Homo sapiens: one gene and its partners. The protein of the gene in region 1 interacts with the protein of each later gene in a pairwise test. Each region holds a gene or a part of one and is shown in the gene's direction. Other genes may lie near its edges.

What was found.
Region 2: the proteins of KRT86 (region 1) and MAPKBP1 interact in binary tests that used the Homo sapiens proteins (3 or more experiments, as listed by UniProt).
Region 3: the proteins of KRT86 (region 1) and CEP57 interact in binary tests that used the Homo sapiens proteins (3 or more experiments, as listed by UniProt).

Annotation. Positions count from the first base shown.
Region 1 is NC_000012.12:52,277,553-52,284,663, forward strand, and holds part of KRT86 (keratin, type II cuticular Hb6), read left to right. Parts: intron 1-1,388; exon of another isoform or gene 1,389-1,604; intron 1,605-7,111.
Region 2 is NC_000015.10:41,770,458-41,777,498, forward strand, and holds the start of MAPKBP1 (mitogen-activated protein kinase-binding protein 1), read left to right. Parts: upstream 1-4,026; 5' UTR 4,027-4,153; intron 4,154-4,709; 5' UTR 4,710-4,818; coding exon 4,819-4,932; intron 4,933-7,041. UniProt on the Homo sapiens protein: Negative regulator of NOD2 function. It down-regulates NOD2-induced processes such as activation of NF-kappa-B signaling, IL8 secretion and antibacterial response. Involved in JNK signaling pathway.
Region 3 is NC_000011.10:95,821,406-95,828,516, forward strand, and holds part of CEP57 (centrosomal protein of 57 kDa), read left to right. Parts: intron 1-465; coding exon 466-573; intron 574-579; exon of another isoform or gene 580-929; coding exon of another isoform or gene 930-986; intron 987-1,093; coding exon 1,094-1,171; intron 1,172-6,380; coding exon 6,381-6,622; intron 6,623-7,111. UniProt on the Homo sapiens protein: Centrosomal protein which may be required for microtubule attachment to centrosomes. May act by forming ring-like structures around microtubules. Mediates nuclear translocation and mitogenic activity of the internalized growth factor FGF2, but that of FGF1.

The DNA of each region.
Region 1 (7,111 bases):
AGGAGGGTGGCTCTGGCAGCACCAAGGGCAAGCTGGCTTGGCTGGAGGCTGCCCTGCAGCGAGCTAAGCAGGATGTGATGTAGCAGCTGTGTGAGTACTGAGAGCTGTGATCGTCAAGTGGGGCCTGGACTTTGAGATTGCTGCCTGCCACAAGCTGCTGGAGGGTGAAGAGAGTGGATGATGGGTCAGCTGGGAAGTGCTTCAGATGTGGCTGCAGTGAGGAGTGCAGGGGCACAGGGCAGCACCACGCTCATCAGCCAGGGAAGGGTGGAGAGAGATGACCTAGGTATCCAGGAACTCGTTCCTCTAGAGCTAGGTTTCTCTCACCATCTTACAGCCCTTTGAACAAAAAGTTCTAGCTGATGTGTACTTTTGGCACCTGGGACGGGGTGACCCATAGTCATCCACCCCAGTATCAGAGACCAGGGGCCGGTTTGTCCATGGAGACAGCTGCAGGGACCAAGGCCTAGCCAGTGGGAATAAGGTCTCTGTGTGAAGTGCCTTCTTCTCAACTCTGCCCCTCTCCCCAGGCCTGGGGAAGGTGGGGTTACATGACCAGGTGGGGCTTGGCTTTCAACTCAGTAGACAACAGTAGGAGACAAGGGCTGTCACCAGGCTAGGGGAGGGAGGGGGAACTGATCACCCATGCCACAGGCATATTGCATTGATCACCTCCTTTAACACCTCACAAAACCCTGGCAGGGAGGTCCTATTATCCCCATTTTACAGATGAGGGGTAAGTTTCAGAGAGGTTAAGTGACAGCTTTAGGGACACACACTAGTCTTCAGATTATGGAGCTACCTGCTCTGGGGTCTCCTGTAGAGGTTTAAAATGTTCCCTCACGGTCTCACCTTCCAAGATCAAGTCAGGCCAAAGAAAGTGTAGTTTTTTTTTTTTTTTTTTTGGTCTTCTCTTTCCTCCAAAAAGTCATCAACAAAAGTGAGTTATATGAATTTAAGGCAGGAGTGATCAGAGAGCGCCAGGGAGCTTGCAGGGTGGAAGGACTGCTGTCTGGGAGGGTCAGGAGTGTGTGTCCTGGGGAATGCAGAATACCAAACCTAGTAGACAGATGGACTCACCTGCTTCCTTCTTTCCGCTGGCTTGGTCTGGGATTTGGGGCAAGGAGCATCAGTAAGTAAACAGTAGGCTGGCATGGTCGGATCTTATCTTATTATCTTATTCTCCTTATTCCCTCCTTCCCCGTCCACACCTTGGCGTGCCTCCTCTTGAGAAGGCAGAAGGGCTGTGTTTCTGTTCCTGTGTCTGTGACAGCTCCCTCTGTGCCTCTCCTTTTGTCGGGGGCTATTTCTTCTCTCGGGGGTGACTGCGTTTGCGTGTGTGGGGAAGGGGGTCCTGTGGTCTGTTCTCTGGGGAGAGGTCTGTTTACCTGTTCCTTTCGGGGAGTTTGTACATCTGTCTCCTGGTGGGGAGGAGGGTCTGTGTATCTGGAGGAGATGTCTGCAAGTCTGTCTTCTGGGGCTTGGGGTGGGGGGAGGAAGGGCTTTCCTCCCTCGGACAGTCGTCCTCCGTTCAGCCGGGCTCCGCCTGCCTGCTCCAGCCCCGAGCAGGCTCCGGCGCCCTGGAGACGAGCGCCCCTGGCGGCGGCTACGCGCTCTGCGGCTCTCCCGGCTGTGTCCGTGGGCTTTAGCTACACAGCTCCCGCAGATGTTGAACCCTTCCCGCCTCCCTCCGGAGAAGACAAGGAACCCTCAGCTTCTGCCCTAAAGACTTAGCCCTCTTGTGTCAGATGCCCCCTCCCATAGAGCTGACCCCACATCATCTTTCCTTTTTGCCTCCCACACCGGGACGTGAGGCGTTGGAGCACAGCTTACAGGACTATGACTGACCATCCCCAGTGCAGATGGCCTGGACGCTGGTGCCATTGGGTAGAGGTGGCCAGCTTACCTGGACCAAGAACCCTGCCCCTCTGAACTGTTCCCACCCCTTCTTTCCAGGGACTTCTCTGCAATAAAAAGTTGTGGAGTGGTCTGAGCTGCCAGGAGTTTAAACCCGGATTCTCCAGGCCATTCCCAGAGCACAGACAAACCTGGCTGCGGTGGAGGGGTCAGGGCGAGAACAGTACCAGGAAGCAACCTCCTCCCCTCCTGCTGTGAGGGTCTATGTGACTTAAGTATATGATGATTCGATATTATAGAACCAGAGTCTTTAGGATGGGGAGCCCGGAGTCCATGGGGAAAGCGAGAGAAAGGGTTCATTCATGCAGAAGAGTCTAGCCTGGGGCCCATAGCTTCTGGGCAGCAGAGCTGAGAATTCCATTCTCCATCCATCCATTCACTCTACACATACTTACTGAATGGCCTCATAGTGCTTGGTTCAGGGGACAGGATGGTGAGGAAGACACTCTAGGATTCCTGGAGATGAGGTTCTGGGTAGGGAGGTGGGCCATAGACGAGGAAACCGAGCAGAAACAGAAAAGGGTGAGATGGGGATTGGGCCAGTGCCTTCTATCACCCTGATGGGGCATTTGAAGACAGGTGGCCCTTGCAGATGGGGGCTGGAGAGAGATGAACACAATTGGGTGGCCCAAGCTTGGGTTCTGGTTTAACACACAATTGGGCCACCGAGTTGTGTTAATATGATCTGGTGGCGGGCAGAGGAACAACACACTATGGTGGAGGAAATTGTGGGCTGTGAAATCAGACGGAGGCTCCAGCTCTGTCTCTACTTCAGATCCAGGGTGTAAGTTGGTCCGAGTTTTTACAAGGCATTGGATTTTGGTGGTCGGAAGATAGAGTGGGGTGGCTAGATAAAGGCTGGATTTCTGGGTTCTTTCCCTGCCACACAGACCCAAGAGAAGCTTCTGTACAGTGAGCCCACATTCCTTTCTATTGCATGAAATTACATCATCAATGCAACAATAGTTTCTGCTTTCTATGTCCCTGGGTGGGGCTGAAGTGCGTCATTGGCCAGAGGCTTGGGCTTTACTTTTTAAGGCACTCTAGTGCCAGAGTGTCTGCTGTGTTCTTCTGGGTGCCTGCCCAGAGGACAGGTATCCAAAAGGCCCTCTTCTTGTGTAAACAGAAAAGTCTCATGCAAGAGGAATGGGACTGAAACTTGGCTAGCCGGATGCCACCCTCCTGAGGGGTAGGGGGCATGACCCCACTGGGCTCACACATCAGCCCTGGTTGATAAATACTGACCTGCCAACACTCGCAAATGCAAACAAGCTGCCTGAAGATTCTTTCAAGATTCTTTAGTCCAGCTCTGTGCTCCTTGCATTTTGCTAGGGGATCATGAGATTCTCTGCTATTCAAGCCCAATTTTCTCCAGCTCCTGCTATGATGATCATGTCAACAAGGGAACTTTGTGGGAATTGTAGGCAGGATCTAGGATGTACATTCTGCAACCTGCGTCACTCAGGACTGTTGCTCACATTTTCCCTTTTCAAATACCGAACCTGGACTTGCCTGATGTCAATCCAGAAGATCCCCAGGGCTTTGGGGTCAGGTTTGAGTTTCTTCCTGGGCCAGGGCCCTGTGGATCACAAGCAATGTTTGTGGTTTGGAGACTAATTCCCTGAGAGGCTCCCCTGGCCATGGGCCACATTCCAGACTGGGGTGGGAGGAAACTGCCCAGTGCATTTATGGAGAGTCATTCCCCAGCCCATTTATAAGCTTTGTGAGTCGGGTGGCTTCTGAAGGGAGGAGGGCTGTCCTCAGTTCAGTCATTGCTTCTCAGCAGAAGGGCACTATAAGGTGTGAGTCCTCTGTTGGCTCTGCATGCCTGCCTCACACTCCGTTGTATTTAAACATGTCAGATGCTAACTTGGCTGTGGTCATGTCTCTATCTGAGCCCCAGGAGGGCAGTGAAGGTCTCATCCATCCTCAGGGTCTGCCACAGAGTAGATGTGATGGGGTTGAGGCTGCATGGTCCTGGTTGGTGTGTCCTGTCCTGAGATGTATTGGGCCCTGTTTTTGACCATTGGCATGTGGCATTCTGCATAACCCCTTGGAAGTCTCTTGTGGAGTCTAAATGCAGTCCTTCCTGCTGTGATTTCAGCTGTAAGAGATCAACCAGACCAGCCTGGAGTAAGGAAGGAAGGGCCTTGATCCTGTTCCCAGTCTTATTCTTACCTTGTCCAAACTCTTCACCTGTTTCTGGGCCTCAGTCCTGCCCTCCTCTAGATCTAAATTGTGAAGATTCTTTTTTTCCTTCTTATTTAATTTTAAATTTATTTTTGTAGTGATGAAGTCTTGCTCTATCACCCAGGCTAGAGTGCAGTGGCAGGATTATAGCTCACTGCAGCCTCAACCTCCTGGGCTGAAGCGATCCTCCTGCCTCAACCTCCTCAGTAGCTGGGACTACAGGCACATGCCTCCACGCTCTGCTAATTAAAAAAAAAGTTTTGTAGAGATGGGGTCTCACCATACTGCCCAGGCTGGTCTCAAACTCTTGGCCTCAAGCAATCCTCCTGCCTCAGCCTCCCAAAGTGCTGGGATTACAGATGTGAGCCACTGTGCTTGGCTTTCTTTTTCCTTGTTTTCTTCCCTACTTAGTCCCTCTGAGCCAAAGGTTAGCTGCAAAATAGAGTAACTATCAGAGGGTTGTTTGAGAAAAGGTATTGCTGCATGTAAAGTGCTTAAAGCATAGGAAGTTATGTAAGTGTAACTATTATTTCACTTACTGGAATTCTTTAGAAGGTTTTTGAGCCCCCTGAAACAATTTTTTTTTTTTTTGAGACAAAGCCTTGCTCTGTCGCCCAGGCTGGACTGCAGTGGCGCAATCTTGGCTCACTGCAAGCTCCGCCTCCCGGGTTCACACCATTCTTCCGCCTCAGCCTCCCAGATAGCTGGGACTACAGGCGCCTGCCACCGTGATGGGCTAATTTTGTTTTTGTATTTTTAGTAGAGACGATGTTTCTCTGTGTTAGCCAGGATGGTCTCGATCTTCTGACCTCGTGATCCGCCCGCCTCAGCCTCCCAAAGTGCTGGGATTACAGGCGTGAGCCACCGCGCCCGGCCAAGTTTTGAGCCCCTTTAAAGAAAGCTCTCCAAAGTCCAAGGGTGGCTGAACTCCATCTGCCCCACCTGGAGTGAGAGTGACCATAGGGCAGGAGGAATAAGTAGGCAAGCCTAGGGGTTAGAGCAAGGGCTCCTTGGCCAGAGGGCACCTCCCTAGTATGACCCCCAGCAGCATCTGCCCATCACTACGCCCACTTTAGCCCCACTCCCCATCGGTGACCCCTACCTCACCAGCACACATGGGTCTACCCATGTACCCACACTGCACTCACATCCACATGTACCCACAAATCTCCCTTTTTCAGCACATAGATGCACACATGTCCACCATGTATAATCACACATTTAGAAACCCTCACCATCTCTCTCACACACACGTTTCCACACAGGTGCCTGGAATGTGCATGTACCTGGATGCAATCATATTGCTCCACTCGCAGTTACCTCTAGGCATTGAGCAATGCAGAATGAATATACAAACAACATGCGCATACACTGCACAGTTGCATGAAACCTGGACTCCCCATTTCCCTCTAGCCCCTAATCCTGTCCCACCTCTCCCAAAGAATAACAGAGTTGACTGGGTGCGGTGGCTCATGCCTGTAATCCCAGCACTTTGGGAGGCTGAGGTGGGTGGATCACAAGGTCAGGAGTTTGAGACCAGCCTGGACAATAAGGTGAAACCCCGTCAGTACTAAAAATACAAAAATTAGCCCGGTGTGGTGCAGGCACCTGTAGTTCCAGCTACTTGGGAGGCTGAGGCAGGAGAATTGCTTGAACTAGTGAGGTGGAGGTTGCAGTGAGCTGAGCCTGCACCACCGCACTCCAGCCTGGGCAACAGGGTGAAACTGTCTCACAAAAAAAAAAAAAAAAAAAAAAAAGAATAATAGAGCTTTAAATTGGTAAGGGATGTTAGTAGCCACCTAATCCAAGCATTTTTTTTTTTTTTTTTTTTTTTTTGAGACAGAGTCTCGCTCTTGTTGCCCAGGCTGGAATGCAATGGCGCCATCTTGGCTCACTGCAACCTCCACCTCTCAGGCTCAAGCAATTCTCCTGTCTCAGCCTCCCAAGTAGCTGGAATTACAGGCACATACCACCACGCCTGGCTAATTTTTTGTATTTTCAGTAGAGATGGGGTTTCTTCCTATTGGTCACGCTGGTCTCAAACTCCTGACCTCAGGTGATCTGCCCACCTCGGCCTCCCAAAGTGCTGGGATTACAGGCGTGAGCCACCACGCCCAGCCCCAAACATTGTATTTCATTAGCAGATACACTAAGGCCCAGAGATGGGAGGTGACTTGCTAAAGGTCACACAGTGAGATGTTCCATTTTCTTCACCATTCTGCACCCGGGGCATTATGTGTTTGATTCCTTCCCGCCTTGCTCCTCTGTCTGAGCCTGTGCAGGAATGGGAACCTAGAGGGAGGTGAGGATTGTGGGGCCGGAGTAGGAAGGAAGAGAGGGTCAGAGCTAGAGGGAGAGTGAGGGAGTGAAATACGGCAGGTCACTAAGGCCCAGCTAGGCTGAAGTTGGAATAGGTGAGAAGTCCATCAGGACTGGAGTTGTAGTTGGCTTCTGAACTAGGGAGGGATGGAGCTGGTGCTTGAGTCTCAGGTCTGGACTCCTGACAGGGGCTGCTGCTGCTGCTGCTGCTTCTTGTTTTTTTATTTTTTTGAAACAGGGTCTTGCTGTGTCGCCCACGCTGGAGGCAGTGGCACAAACATGGCTCACTGTGCGGCTTCAACTTCCTGGGCTCAAGCTGTCCTGCTTCGGCCCCCTAAGTAGCTGGGACTATAGGTGCACACCACGTCGCCCAGCTAATATTTTTATATTTTATAGAGATAGAGTCTCACTGTATTGTCTGGGCTGATCTCTAACTCTGGGGCTCAAGCGATCTTTTCACCTTGGCCTCCTAAAGTGTTGAGATTATAGGTGTGAGCCACTGCACCTGGCCTAGGGCCAGCTTCTGAGCTGTGTGATGTCACAGCATACAGGGCTGGTTGGAATGATTGATCACAAATTCTGGAACTTTCTAGGATTGTGTCCCTCTCAGAATTCCATCAGGGGTGGCTGAGAGACCTTGGTTTGATTCTAGCTTTTACAGGAGAATTTGTTCTTTTCAGTCCAC
Region 2 (7,041 bases), on another chromosome or scaffold:
GGAATTACAGATGAAATACCTGATGCTAGGCTCTTCTATAACAAGTTTGAAAATGTTTTGAACACACAAGAAAGGCAGACAATCCATATGTTATTTTTGGTTTAGTGGTTTAGATAATTTTTTTTCTAACTATACTGGTTGAGATATTTGAAATCAAATAGGGTGATGCACTTTAAAAACGGGTCTAGAAAATAGTGACAGCCCTTGTCCCTCACTCCAGAATTAAACAACAACAAACCATACACAGCACATTTTCCAGGTACTTTTATAGAGAATGACTGATAACCAAGAATCAGAATACATTTCTTGCACAAAACTGTTGGTTTTGAAGAAGGTGCTGTAAAGGCATCAGTACTTCATGTCACTGTATTATCACTAATGAAATTTTTATTTTTATTTTTTTTGAGGCAGAGTCTCACTCTGTCGCCCAGGCTGGAGTGCAGTGGTGCCGTCTTGGCTCACTGCAAGCTCTGCCTCCCGGGTTTACGCCATTGTCCTGCCTCAGCCTCCGGAGTAGCTGGGACTACAGGCGCCCGACACTGTGCCCGGCTAATTTTTTTGTATTTTTTTGTAGAGACAGGGTTTCACCATGTTAGCCAGGATGGTCTCAATCTCCTGACCTTGTGATCCGCCCGCCTCGGCCTCCCAAAGTGCTGGGATTACAGGCGTGAGCCACTGCGCCCGGCCTACTAATGAAATTTTACATGGACACAAATATCTAGGTGCAGGGAAAATTAAAGCTGAGATATTCAGACTCACTGCCAGTTGGAGGAAAAAAATCAGTTATAACGCATTTTTTGGAATAGAGGGAAATAATTTGATAAGTACAACTTTTTGTTTGAGGTGTAGCTAATGTTAGACATGACTGAGCTGTTCTACACATAAGTGTTGAATAGTGATGGTGGTGCATTAAGAGGATGGGAAGACTATGGGATGAGTTGGAAATTTTGAGACAAATCTAAACTCTACTAATTTCTATTGTTGTAAACTCTGCTGGTAGAAAAGATATTAAGTAGGAAAGCAGTCTTGGAAGCATGGTTTTGAGATCCATTGTGTTTCCAACTGCAATCATTGATCTCAGCTGTTGCACAGTGCCTTTGCATGTAAAGGTGCTCAATAAATATTTGAATTGATGAGCAAATGTTTAGACTGTTTCCCAGGAACTTATACCTTATTTGCATGTTATGCCTAGGGTGAATTTTAAAATTTGATCTAATGAGTATAGTGCTAAACAGACAACTATATAACGTCTATTCCCCAGACATCTAGAATTTCAGAAGCTGGCAAACACTATGTATAGATGTTTAGGACATATAAAAGTAGAATAAAGTGTTAAATAGTGTATGGATGATGAAATACTTATGAAGAGTTAACTGCATTTTGGAGGATTGGGATGGCAAGTAGAGTCATGCGTCACTTAATGATGGGGATACGTTCTGAGAAATGCACCTTGGGTGGTTTTGTTCTGCAAACATCATAGAGTGTACTGTACTTAAACAAACCTAGATGGTGTTGCTTAACCACACACCTAGGCTGTGTTGCTCCTAGGCTACAACTCTGTACAGCATGTTAACTGCACTGAATATCATAGGCAGTTGTAACACGTGGTGTTTGTGTGTCTACACATAGGAAAGGTATGGTAAAAATATGATATTATAATTTAATGGGATCATGTGGTCATTGAAATGTATACAGTGCATGACTGTAAATCTGAGTGGAGAAAAGTGAATAATGCTTCTGTTCACATTAGACCTGGGACTGTTATTTTCTGAGGAATTAATGAAGAATGGGAATAGCCTATATAGCTTATTCCTATATTGGTATCTCAAAGGCAGTGTAGTACCTAGACAATAAAAGTTGGACTGAATTGTGAAGAATTAAAAATGTGTGGGCCGGGCATGGTGGCTCACGCCTGTAATCCTGGCACTTTGGGAGGCCAAGGCAGGCGGATCACGAGGTCAGGAGATCGAGACCTCCTGGCCAACATGGTGAAACCCCATCTTTACTAAAAATACAAAAATTAACTGGGTGTGGTGGCGCGTGCCTGTAATCCCAGCTACTCGGGAGGCTGAGGCAAGAGAATGGCTTGAAACCAGGAGTCGGAGGTTGCAGTGAGCTGAGATCGCCACTGCAGTCCAGTCTGGGGACAGAGCAAGACTCTGTTTAAAAAAAAAAAAAAAAAAAAAAAAAAAGCGTGGCTTTGGCCTAAGACTGGAAGTACCCAGATTCCAGACTTAAGAAATCCTCATTAAAATGCTTTCAGTTGTTTTTCATGAAAGAAATGACCAGTGATACTTTGTAAACCATTTATCTGGCCATGAGTGATCAGGTGAGAAAACCGTTAGCGGACACCAGAATGATCTGGAGAGGATTAGGGACGGCTCTTGTGGGCACATTTTTACTCTAGTTTCATGGGTGGAGATGGCATCTGCCGTGGTCTGCAGCATGCAAGTAAAGACACCAGGTGGCACCATTTATTAGCTTTCAATCCCATGGAGAGGTCCCATCATGTAACTACCAAGAGGTTGAAGGAACCAACTACCTCTTGCATATTGTAGCTAATGGTTCTTGCCTTCTTCTTCCAGACTTGGGAAATAAATTTGAAAATCGTATTTTCTGTTTCATAATATTTGCAGTGCATGGTTGAAGGGAAGAAGGCCACGTGCTATTGCCAGTTGGTCTCCAGGAGGTGACATCCATCATCTCCATGTCAACTTGTGAGCTTTACAAATCTAATTTTCAGTACGTGGCTACAGTATACACAAGAAAATATGTGCTTTGCCACTTGGCTCTAAAGGCTCACCGTTGTACACAAGCAATGAGTTTAGGGGTTCTTCCCTCTTGTTATCACATGTCATCTCCACAGGGTTTCAAAAGATCTGGATAGGGTGAGACAGACACACCAGTGTAGTACTCCCTTGGGTCCCTTGTCTTTGGCTTAGGCTTTTTCATAAGGTATAATAATTTGTTAGAGGTTCTTCCCTCTTGCAGACACATGTCATCTCCACAGGGATTCAAAAGATCTGGATAGGGTGAGACGGACACACCAGTGTACTATTCCCTTGGGACCCAAGTCTCTGGCTTAGGCTTTTTCATAAGGTGATTTCTTGTGGTAGTAGTCAAGTGGAGAATACTCAGGAAATACTATTTCATGTAACATTTCCGTGTATTCCCTCTGCCTCCCCCGACATGAGTTAGAAAACTACCCCTCGATCTAGTATCAGCAAGCTCGACAGTGACCTCAGCAAGGAACAGCCCTAGATAAAAGGATTCATAAGTAAATGGAATGAGGAAAAGATCTGGAGCAACAAAGTCCTGGTCAGCTTTAGGTGAGGAAGCACAATGGGATGTTGGAGGCTAAAGAAGCCATGAAACCTAAAGTATTATAACATAGCATATTCACTTCTCTTTCCCCCGCACGCCCAAAGCTCTGTTCAAGGCCACCCTTTCCCCTTTCATGATGACCAGGTTGCCCAGTGCAAAAATACTGTTCTTAGCTATTAAATTGCATTACTCAGAATAATCCTTTCCACGTTGAGTCTACGTGCCGGACTGGCTGCGAGCAGAAACTACTTCAGTCGCTTTAAATCTCAACACTTGTGGTCGCTGGGAGCAGAGCTTTTAGGCTGTAGCTCAGTCTTGTAATTCTGAGCTAGGAGTTTCAGCTACGGTCCCTCGGGCCTATCAGATGACAACCTTAACACCCTGGAGGCGTGGTTATCGTCTTGGGGCTCTGGGAAGTGCAGTTCCATGGGGGACCAGGCCTGATAATACCATAAAAGGCTTGGTTCTCTCAATTCTGAAGCCATGTTCTGTTGACCTTCCTCTAAAAGCGGTACCCGCAATTGTGCGGATTCCGTGGTTCCCTAGTCCCAAGCCGTCTGCTTCCTGGGCCCTTTCATTGGCTCCGCCCCCGTAAACCTTGCTCGTCCACTCTGGAAGCGCTCTCCTGACTACAGGCCGCGCCCCTCGCGTCGGCTCCGCCCACCCAGCCCGCGGCTTGGCCCAGGCGGTAGTTCGCGTTTTGAGCCGATCGTGCCACCATAGCTCCTGCTGCTGCCTCTACCGCTGCGGCTACCGCGGCGGAGCTGAAATTGCCGAACGCGATGCCCGAGGGCGCTGTGAGCGGGGTGGCCTTAGCTCGCCGAGGCTGGTGAGGCTGGGCCCGAACGGGGGCGCTGACGAGTAGCAGGGGCCTCAGAGGCGGGTGAAAGATAAAGGTCCAGAGCCGCTGTGGAGGGCGGAGAGCGAGCTCTGGAGGATAGGGAGTGGGGGAGGGAGGCTCCCGTGGCAGAACGAGTTGTGGGCTACGGCGAGCCCCGCCGCGTCCCCGCCGGCGCTAGCGCAGGTGTCCAGGCCTGCGGAAATCCCTGGTGGTCTCGGCGGCCTCCTCCCTTGGACACTACAGTTGCCATGGGAACAGTTGGGCATTAACGGGAACCAGATCGTCCACGAGACCAACTGGGGCCCATCCCATCCATCTCGCCAGTTAAACGCCTCTGGCGGGCGTGGGCCTGGCATTTCTTCGTGGCTTAGGATTTTCCCCCCCTTTTTCGTGAGCCTTTCCTTCCGACGTTGTAAGAAACTGTGCAGGGCTAGAAGGTGGGGATGAGGGAAATGGTGAGAGCAATACCCAGAGGTAAAAGCTGCAGACTTCGCTAGGCAGAAGGTAAGACACTGTGATACTAAGGTGGCTTCTGCCATCTCAGGTCAGTGAGAGGGCATACTGGGAAGCCCTCTGGAGTGGGAAGACAGTGCCGCTGTTGAGACAAGACCCAGGACTGGGCCGGGGACTGTCCCAAAGGGTTTCTCGTCATAATGGCTGTGGAAGGGTCAACCATTACCAGCCGGATCAAGAATCTGTTGAGATCTCCATCCATCAAACTGCGCAGGAGTAAGGCAGGAAACCGACGAGAGGACCTCAGCTCCAAGGTGAGTCCTGTTGGGATCCACCTCTTTCCAAACCCACCCTCTCCTGCTCCATGTTCCTCGTTAACCTTCCTGTTTCTTGGGAAAGATAACTAGAAGCCCTTGTTGACTCTAAAGGATCACATATGATCTCTGCAGGCAATGATTTGGTTTTAGGTTGAAGGAAAAAGAGCAGCAGGGGTGGGCATGCTGAGATTCATCCATGAGAAAAGGTGAATAGTAGGAAGACCACCTGGGTTCAATTGTGGCCTCACTATACACTAAGCATGTGCTTGGGAAGCCAGTTGATATGCTATGACTCAGTTTCCCTTCTTGGGAGAGGACAGTAGGAACACATACCTTGTGAAGGGCTAAGCTGTGACTAATGTAGCTGCAGGTGTTAACGTAACAGCTGGGGTTATGTAAGACTGTAGTGGCAGAAAGAAATATGCTAAAACACCTAGTCAGAGTTACTGGCTTGGTAATTGCTCTTGCCTACGGTGAAAACAAATTTTTTTTGTCTCTTCAAGAGGCTAACTGGAGCCTTTTGGCTTCTTAGGAATAACATGCAAGAAGCCAGATATCTGTCAGCAAAACAGTTCTGGATGGCCCTTGAGCATTGCTTATCTCATTCACTATATGCCAAGAGCCACATCCCACTCAGCTGCAGATGATCCTCAGAGGCAAAGTTCCTTTCCATCGCTTCACTTGTCTGTGTTTTGGTCCTTATGCTTTTTCAACTAAATAAACCCCACAACTTTGGGAATCCAGAAGTAGTCGACATTTATTTAATCCCTTGAGGGAATCCAGGGCTTTACTCCCACAGGATCAGATCAGATTTTGTGTCTTATTAGTAGCCTGTAAACCCAATAGGGTTGTGAGGTACAAGGTTGTTACAGGGAGAGGCATTTGAGACCACAGCATTGTATTGCTTTGCCTGTATCTCTTCAGTGATGAGTAAATCCCATGAGGAATGATTTAGAATGCCACTGTACAAATGGCAGGGTTCTGGGAGGACTTAGTTCAGCCCTGTGTTCCTTAGCAGAACTTTGAGTAGATTTGGTAAGAAGGTGAAGAGCTTTCCTGTATATTTCAGCAGAAGTTGTGTTGAATCACAGTTTGCTACAAGGTTTTGTGATGGTGGACATTGTGACCCTTCCAAGGTCTCTTATTCATCATTGTTTCTATTCTCCTGAGGCAGGCAAAGAAGCCTGAAATGTAGAAATTGCCTTAGATATGACTCTGTTCATTCTTAATACTGCAAGTGCTCTTATTCTTGGCTGGTAGCTTGGCAGTGACCAGCACTGTTAGAGCAATCTTCTCCAATCTTTGGCCTCTTTTTCTGGCCAGGAATGATATATGTAGTAGAAACATATAATGAGAGTTTAGCCTTCATTGTTAATTCTTACTGTAATTTTGGTCTGGAATCCAGAAAGTATAGTTGCCATTCTTTAAGACTTCCAATATCATCCATTATTAATGCATTTAACAAGTGTTTATTGAGTGCCTATGAAGTGTGCAATCAGTGATGGGTAAAACATTACCCTTGCCATCAAAGAGCTTATGGCTAGTCAGACATGTAAACAATTAAAACACGGTGTGGTAAGTGCTGCTGTAGAAGTATGTGTACGTTGTTAATGGAAGCACAGGGGAGGCGACCTAAGTCAGTTCAGAGGAATTAGGAAAGGCTTCACAGGCCAGGCATGGTGGCTCACCCCTGTAATCCCAGCACTTTGGGAGGCCAAGGCGGATGGATCACTAGGTCAGGAGTTCGAAACCAGCCTGGTCAAGATGGTGAAACCTCATCTCTACTAAAAATACAAAAATTAGCCGGGCGTGGTGGTGCATGTCTGTAATCCCAGCTACTCGGGAGGCTGAGGCAGGAGACTCGCCTGAACCCGGGAGGCTGAGGTTGCAGTGAGCTCAGATCCTGCCAGTGCACTCTAGCCTGGGTAACAGAGCAAGACTCCGTCTCAAAAAAAAAAAAAAAAGGAAAGGCTTCACAGAGGAAGGGATGCTTGAACTGTGAGTCCTAAGGCAGGTGGAGAAGAGCTCTCCAGGAAAACAGTGGAAAAGGGGCATCCCTGGCAAGACCATTTACCATTCCCTGTTTAAAATAGGAATTCAGTGCTT
Region 3 (7,111 bases), on another chromosome or scaffold:
TTTTTTTGGATATAAGTTTTCAATTCCTTTTTCTTATATAGTAAGTGCATGGCTTTTTAGAAAGGGAAGAAATGTATTCTGCTCTTCGGCTGTTTTGTGTCTGGTAATGTAGTAGATGCCATTTTTGAAAAGAATATATTTAAGCAATGGTTTGGGGTTAGATACATTGCATTTAACTCGTTAGATAGAATTTATGGAGTAACTACAAATACTGGAGATAATGTGTTCCACGCTGAAGAAGGGACAAATTATAACAGAAGGTCAAGATAAAATGAGAGACTGGTATTTATTTAAAATATTTGACAAACGTTGATAGATTGGTTCAAGACATAGTTATACAGCTGTAATATGTTTTTCAGTTAGATACTACCATTGGTTTTTACAGGCTTTTTACATGACACATCTGAAATCTGAGTCATAGCTTTTATTTCTACAGCATTAACTTGAGGCTCTCATTTTTCCTAGTTGCAGACTGGTCTAGAAACAAATAGACTTATCTTTGAAGATAAGGCAACTCCGTGTGTTCCCAATGCAAGAAGAATTAAAAAAAAGAAGTCAAAACCACCAGAAAAGGTGTGAAGACAGAACCAAATCAGGCAAAATGCTGATTACTTGGTATAGTTTATGTCAAAACACCCATAAACTGTGTGGTGTACTACAACCTTGAGAGAGTAAATCTTTCATTCTCAATTTCTTCATTCAGAAGGTGGAGATAAGTAATACCTACTCCTAAATTTTTATCCTGATAGTGAGAAAATATATAAGCATTTTGGAACTACAGAACACCATACAAAATTAGCATTATTAGTACTGCATTATCTTGTGCTCTTACAATGTTTTGTGTATATGTATACTGATTTTCTACTTAGAATGTAACTGTTGTTTTGTCAAGTGCTTTTTTCCCCCCAGCCTTTCCTAGGCTAGGATATATGCTAACAAGTACTATTAGGAGCTGGCTTGTGATCATAATGCCAACTATAGATAAGGCAAGTAGTAGCCTAGTAGTTAACTGAAGTTTCAAGTTAGTCATGTATAGTCAGTTTTTATTATCATGTGAATAAAATAAAATTGTTTTCCTTTTCTTTTCATTCAGAAAAGTTCTAGGAACTATTTTGGTGCACAACCACATTATAGATTATGCTTGGGTGATATGCCATTTGTAGCTGGGAAGGTGAGTTGGTCAAACTCCGGATTCTTTTTATACAACATTGATCCCTGAATTAAGTCCCTGCATCTGCAAGTATGTCTACAAATGGAAGGAACATTTTTCTGTGCCTTTACCAGTGTGTGGATCACAGTGATGTGAAAATGAGATGTAGGGAGGTTTTTGGGGATTAGGGAAGCAAGGAAGAGATGGGGAGGATACCTTAAAGTAGATAAAGTATATGTGGAAAGGAAGTGATAAAACAGAGACCCTAAGTTGAAGAAGGTGTTGTTTCAGATAGGGGTCAAGGAAATAAGAAATAGTATGTTTGTAGCATTGGATTTTTAGTATCAATCCTGTTGAGTTACATTTAGATATAGGTAGATATTCGAATAAGCACGTAGCACATTCTGCTTGTCCTCACATCCAGATCATTTCTAGGACTAATTCTCCAAGAAGCAGTCATACGTACACTTGAATCTTCAGTTTCTTCAGCACTTGAATGTAAAGCTGTATTGTCATATATCAAGTACTGAGTGAAGTGCCTAAAACTGTGCTAGTTGACACTACTTTATAAGCTGTTTGTGTTGCTGGTGGTTTTATATTTAGATTCCAACTAGATTGTTATTCTGGCATCTTGGGAAGTAAATGTTCTTCTGAATTTTGTATTTGTTTATATTTATTTATTTTAAACCCCTAGTAAATTCGCAGTGAAATCATGGGGAATATAATAAATTAGTGGTGACAAGCATTTGAAAAAGGTACAGTTGACCCTTGAACAACATGAGTCCGAACTCTGTGTGGGTCTACTTACAGGCAGATTTTTTTTTTCAATAAGTATCTTGGAAAATTTTTTGGAGATTTTTGGCAATTTGAAAAAACTTGCAAACTATAGCTTAGAAATATCAGAAGTTAAGAAAAAGTTGGTATGTCATAGATGCATAAAATTGACTATGTCAATACTAGTGCATTTTATCATTTACTACCATAAAATATACACAAGTTTTTTTTAATTATAATTTATCAAAACAATTTGCACACAGACTACGTGACGCCATTCACAGTCCAGAGAAATGTAAACAGAGATAAAGATGCAGTATGAAATCATAACTGTATAAAATTAACTGTAGTACATACTGTACGACTGATAATTTTGTAGCCACCTTCTGTTGCCATTGTGATGAGCTCAAGGGTTGGGAGTATTCACTTAAAATGCCACGTGACGCTAATCATCTTCAAATGAGCAGTTCATCTCTCCAGTCAATTGTGTATCACAGTAAAAAGTGTTCTCTAGCAGTTCCATATTTTCCATCATGTTTAGCACAATACAGTAAATAATTTGAATAATATCATGGGACCCATATCAAGTGCTACTAATGATGGTGGAAGTGCTCCCAAGAAGCAGACAAAAGTCATGACATGACAAGAAAAAGTTGCATTGCTTGATATGTACCATAGATTGAGGTCTGCAGCTGCGGTTGTCCACCATTTCAAAATAAATGAATCCAGCTGAAGGCCTATTGTAAAAAAAAAAAAAAAAAAAAAAATGATCCCGGCATGTTGGCGTGCACCTGTGGTCCCAGCTACTCAGGAGGCTGACAGAAGAGGATCACTGTAGCCCAGGAGTTCGAGACTGTAGTAAGCGATGATGGCACCACTGTACTCCAGCATAGGCAACAGAGTAAGATCCTCTTTAAAAAATTTTTTTTAAAAAAAAAAGGAAATTGTGAATCTGTCACTGCAGCTACTCTAGCAGGTGCCAAAACCTTGTGCTTTTTGCAAAATAGCTTTTTATCTCATTGAAAATGCAGCTTTTATGTGGATGCAGGATTGCTATAAGAAAGGCATACTTGTAGACTCTAATATGATTTGAGAAAAAGGAAAGTCATTATATGACAACTTAAAAGGAAGGTGAGGTATCTAAAGCTGGAGAATTTAATTCCAGCAAAGGATGGCTTGATAATTTTAGAGGTTTGGCTTTAAAAATGTCAAGATAGGAGAAGCAGCTTCTGCTGACCAAGAGGCAGCAGATGAATCCCAAGATACCATTAAGAAAATCATTGAGGAGAAAGGGTATCTTCCTGAACAGGCTTTTAATGCAGACAGAAGTACCCTATTCTGGAAAAACATGATGCCACGAAGGATATTTATAAGTAAGGAGGACAAGTCAGCACCAGGATTTAAGGAAAGAGGAGACGGGCTAAATCTACTATTTTGTGAAAACACAATCCGATTTACAATCAGGACTGCCCTTATCTATAAAGCTGCTAATCCCTGAGCCTTCAAGGGGAAATATACCCAACTGCCAGTCTTTGGGTTTACAACAAGAATGACCCTTTGAGAACCCTTTTTCTAAACTGGATTTAGAAAAAACATTGATCCATCAATCCTTTGTCCCTGAAGTCAGGAAGTAATTTGCCAGTAAGAGACTGCCTTTTAAAGTCTTTTTAATACTAGGCATTGCCCCTAGCTACCCAGGAGCATGGAAGTTCAACACCAAAGGCATGGAAGTAGTCTACTTGTCCCTAAACACAGTGTGTCTAATTCACCCTCTGGATCAGGGAGCATAAGGACTTCTAAGGCACATTACATACACTATAAAAAGGGTTCTTAATGCTGTGGAAGAGAACTTCAGAGAGAACATTATGAGGGTCTGGAAGGATTACAGTTGAAGATGATGCCATCATTTTTATAGAAAAAGTCATGAAAGCCATCAAGTCTGAAATAATAAATTCCTGTTGGAGAAAACTCTCCAGGTGATATGCATGATTTCACAGGATTTATGACAAAGCCAATCATGAAAAAGATGGTAGATATGGCAAAAAAGGTTGGAGGTGAAGGATTTCAAGATACGAATTTTGGAGAAATTAAAGAGTCAGTAGACACCATGATAGAGGAATTAACAGAAGATGACTGGGATGGATAAGAGTGCTTTCAAACCAGTGCCACAAGATGAAGAAGACAACACAGAAGTAATGTCAGAAAACAAGTTGACATTAGATAATCTGACAGAAGGGTTCTAATTATTCAAGACTGCTTTTGACTTTTTTTTTTTTTTTTTTTTTGAGACGGAGTCTCGCTCTGTCACTCAGGCTGGAGTGCAGTGGCACGATCTCAGCTCACTGCAACCTCTGCCTCCTGGGTTCAAGCAATTCTCCCACCTCAGCCTCCCAAGTACCTGGACAACAGGCACGCGCCACCATGCCTGGCTAATTTTTGTATTTTTTTAGTAAAGACAGGGTTTCTCCATGTTGGCCAGGCTGGTCTCGAAATCCTGACCTTAGGTGATCCACCTGCCTCAGCCTCCCAAAGTGCTGGGATTCTGTAATCCCACTGTAATCCCAGTGGCTGAGCCACTGCGCCCAGCCTGCTTTTGACTTTTACGACATCGACCCTTCTATGATACATCACTGAAACTAAAACAAATGGTGGAAGAATTGGTATCTCATAGAAACATTTTTAGAGAAATGAAAAAGCAGAAAAGTCAAGACAAATTATAGTGTATTTCTGTAAAGTTACACAGAATGTGCTAGCCTCTCCTGCCTCCCCCTCCACTTCTTCTGCCTCTGCCACTCCTGAGACAGCAAGACCAACCCTACCCTTCTGCCTACTCAACAGTGAAGATAATGGGGATGAAGGCCTGTATGGTGATCCAGTTAATGAATAGTAAATATACTTTCTCTTCCTTAGGATTTTCTTAATATTTTTTTCTAACTTTACTTTTAGAATATTGCTTACAATACATAAAACAAAAATGCTTCCAGTCAACAGCAGGCTATTACATTTTAGGGCAAAATTTATTATAGTTCTCAGTTACATAAGTGGGAGCTGAATGATCAGAACCCATGGACACATAGTGGGGAACAACATACACTGGAGCCTGTTTGGTGGGGGAGTTGGTCAACGGGGAGGGAGAGCATCAGGAAGAGTACCTAATGGATGCTGGGGTTAATACCTAGGTGATGGGTTGATCTGTGCAGCAAACCACCATGACACACATTTACCTATATAACAAACCTGCGCATGTACGCCAGAACTTAAAAGTTGAAGGAAAAAAAAATTTCATTATGGCAGAGTTTTGACTACATGGGTGGTCGGTGCCCCTAACCCCTCCATTGTTCAAGGGTCAAGTGCATATTAATATAATCAGAAAAATAACAGAACGAGAATTTTTTAAATTATTGCATATTGAAAGTGTACTCATAGGCAATTAGTATGCTAAATATATATTACAAGTTACGAGCAAAATAGTGGTTACATCGATTGATTTTTGAATAGTGGACCAGCCTTGCATTGATGTAATAAACTCCCACTTGGATGTGATATATAATACTGCTGCATTCACTTTGCTAGCTAACAATAGAAACTAAGATTAGAAGGAAAGCATATGTTTAGCTTAGCATGGTGGTTCCAAATCTGGCTAATCAAAATCAACTGGAGGACTTGAAAACACAAATTTCCAAACCCTAACTCTGCAGTGAGTTTGGTGTGCTGCCTAGGAACCTGCATTTTAAATATGCTTTCTAATAATATTTATGGAGCCAAGTAAGCCCAGCCATCTATTTATAAAGTGGAATAGTACATTGAGATTGTTGGTTTAGTGTTTAAAACAAAAGCAAAATATCTTTGAGAAGTCTATCAGGTTTTTCTTACACACGTGATAGACATGTAATTTAGTGCTTCCTATTATTCCAGGATACAGAAATGAACAATAGTGTCTACCACCTGGATGTACACTGTTTAATAGGTGAAATAGATATGTAAAAGCAATTAAAATATGATAAATGCTATGAGAGAGATGTAAAAAGTGTTATAGGTGATCTGATAATGGACTGATTGATTACCTGGCAGTTTTAAGGAAGCCTTTAAAAATAATATATTTGAACTGGGTTTTAAAGAATGATATAAATGTTGCTAATACACCAAAAAAATGTCATCTGCAAATATGGTTTGTTCACAAAATGGAGAGAAGGGGAGGATGATAGGACATGAGGCTAGGAAATGTAGGTTGCAGCTCAATGATGTGTATGTAGGGCCTTATTTTCCATTCTGAAACATAGTTAGTGGATTTATATCAAAGGATTTCAAATAGAAGAACATCATGATGAGAATAATTTTAGGATTTATATACTCTACTTTAGGGGGTGGAGAGTTCTTTTTACCTAGGCTTAGGGAATAGAAAGTGGTGTAGAGAATATAACTTCAATTACTTCTTTCATCATTTTTCTTCCTTTAGTCCACAAGCCCTAGCCATGCCGTGGTAGCCAATGTTCAGCTTGTCTTGCATCTAATGAAGCAACACAGTAAAGCTTTGTGCAATGATCGAGTCATCAACAGTATTCCTTTGGCAAAGCAAGTATCTTCACGAGGTGGTAAAAGTAAGAAGTTGTCAGTAACACCTCCCTCCTCCAACGGTATTAATGAGGAGTTGTCAGAAGTCTTACAGACTTTACAGGATGAATTTGGGCAAATGAGCTTGTGAGTTTTTGTTTTTTTTTTTAAATTCAGTTTAGCTCTAAAACCTCATTTTTTAAAAACTTGTTGACTTTATTAAATCTTACTTTCCTTTGTTGAGCAAGTATGGTTGAGCACAATCCTTATACCAACCAAGTTACTGGGACTTTAACAAATACAACTAATAAGGGTAAAATCTCTCTCTTTTTAAATACTGTTAAATGTTTTGAAGACCAAGGTTTATATTTAAGTTTTATTTCTTTGAGAACTTATGATATACAGTCATGCATCACTGAATGACAAAGATGTGCTCTGAGAAATACATCATTAGGCGATTTTCTTTTCCTTGTGCTAACATAAGAGTGTGCTAAGCTTATAGCTTATTGCTCCTAGGCTACAAACCTATACAGCATGTTACTCTACTACTAAATACTATATGCAGTTGTAACACAATGGTAAGTATTTGTGTATATAAACATCTAGGTAGAGTAAAAATATGATACTAAAGTCTTA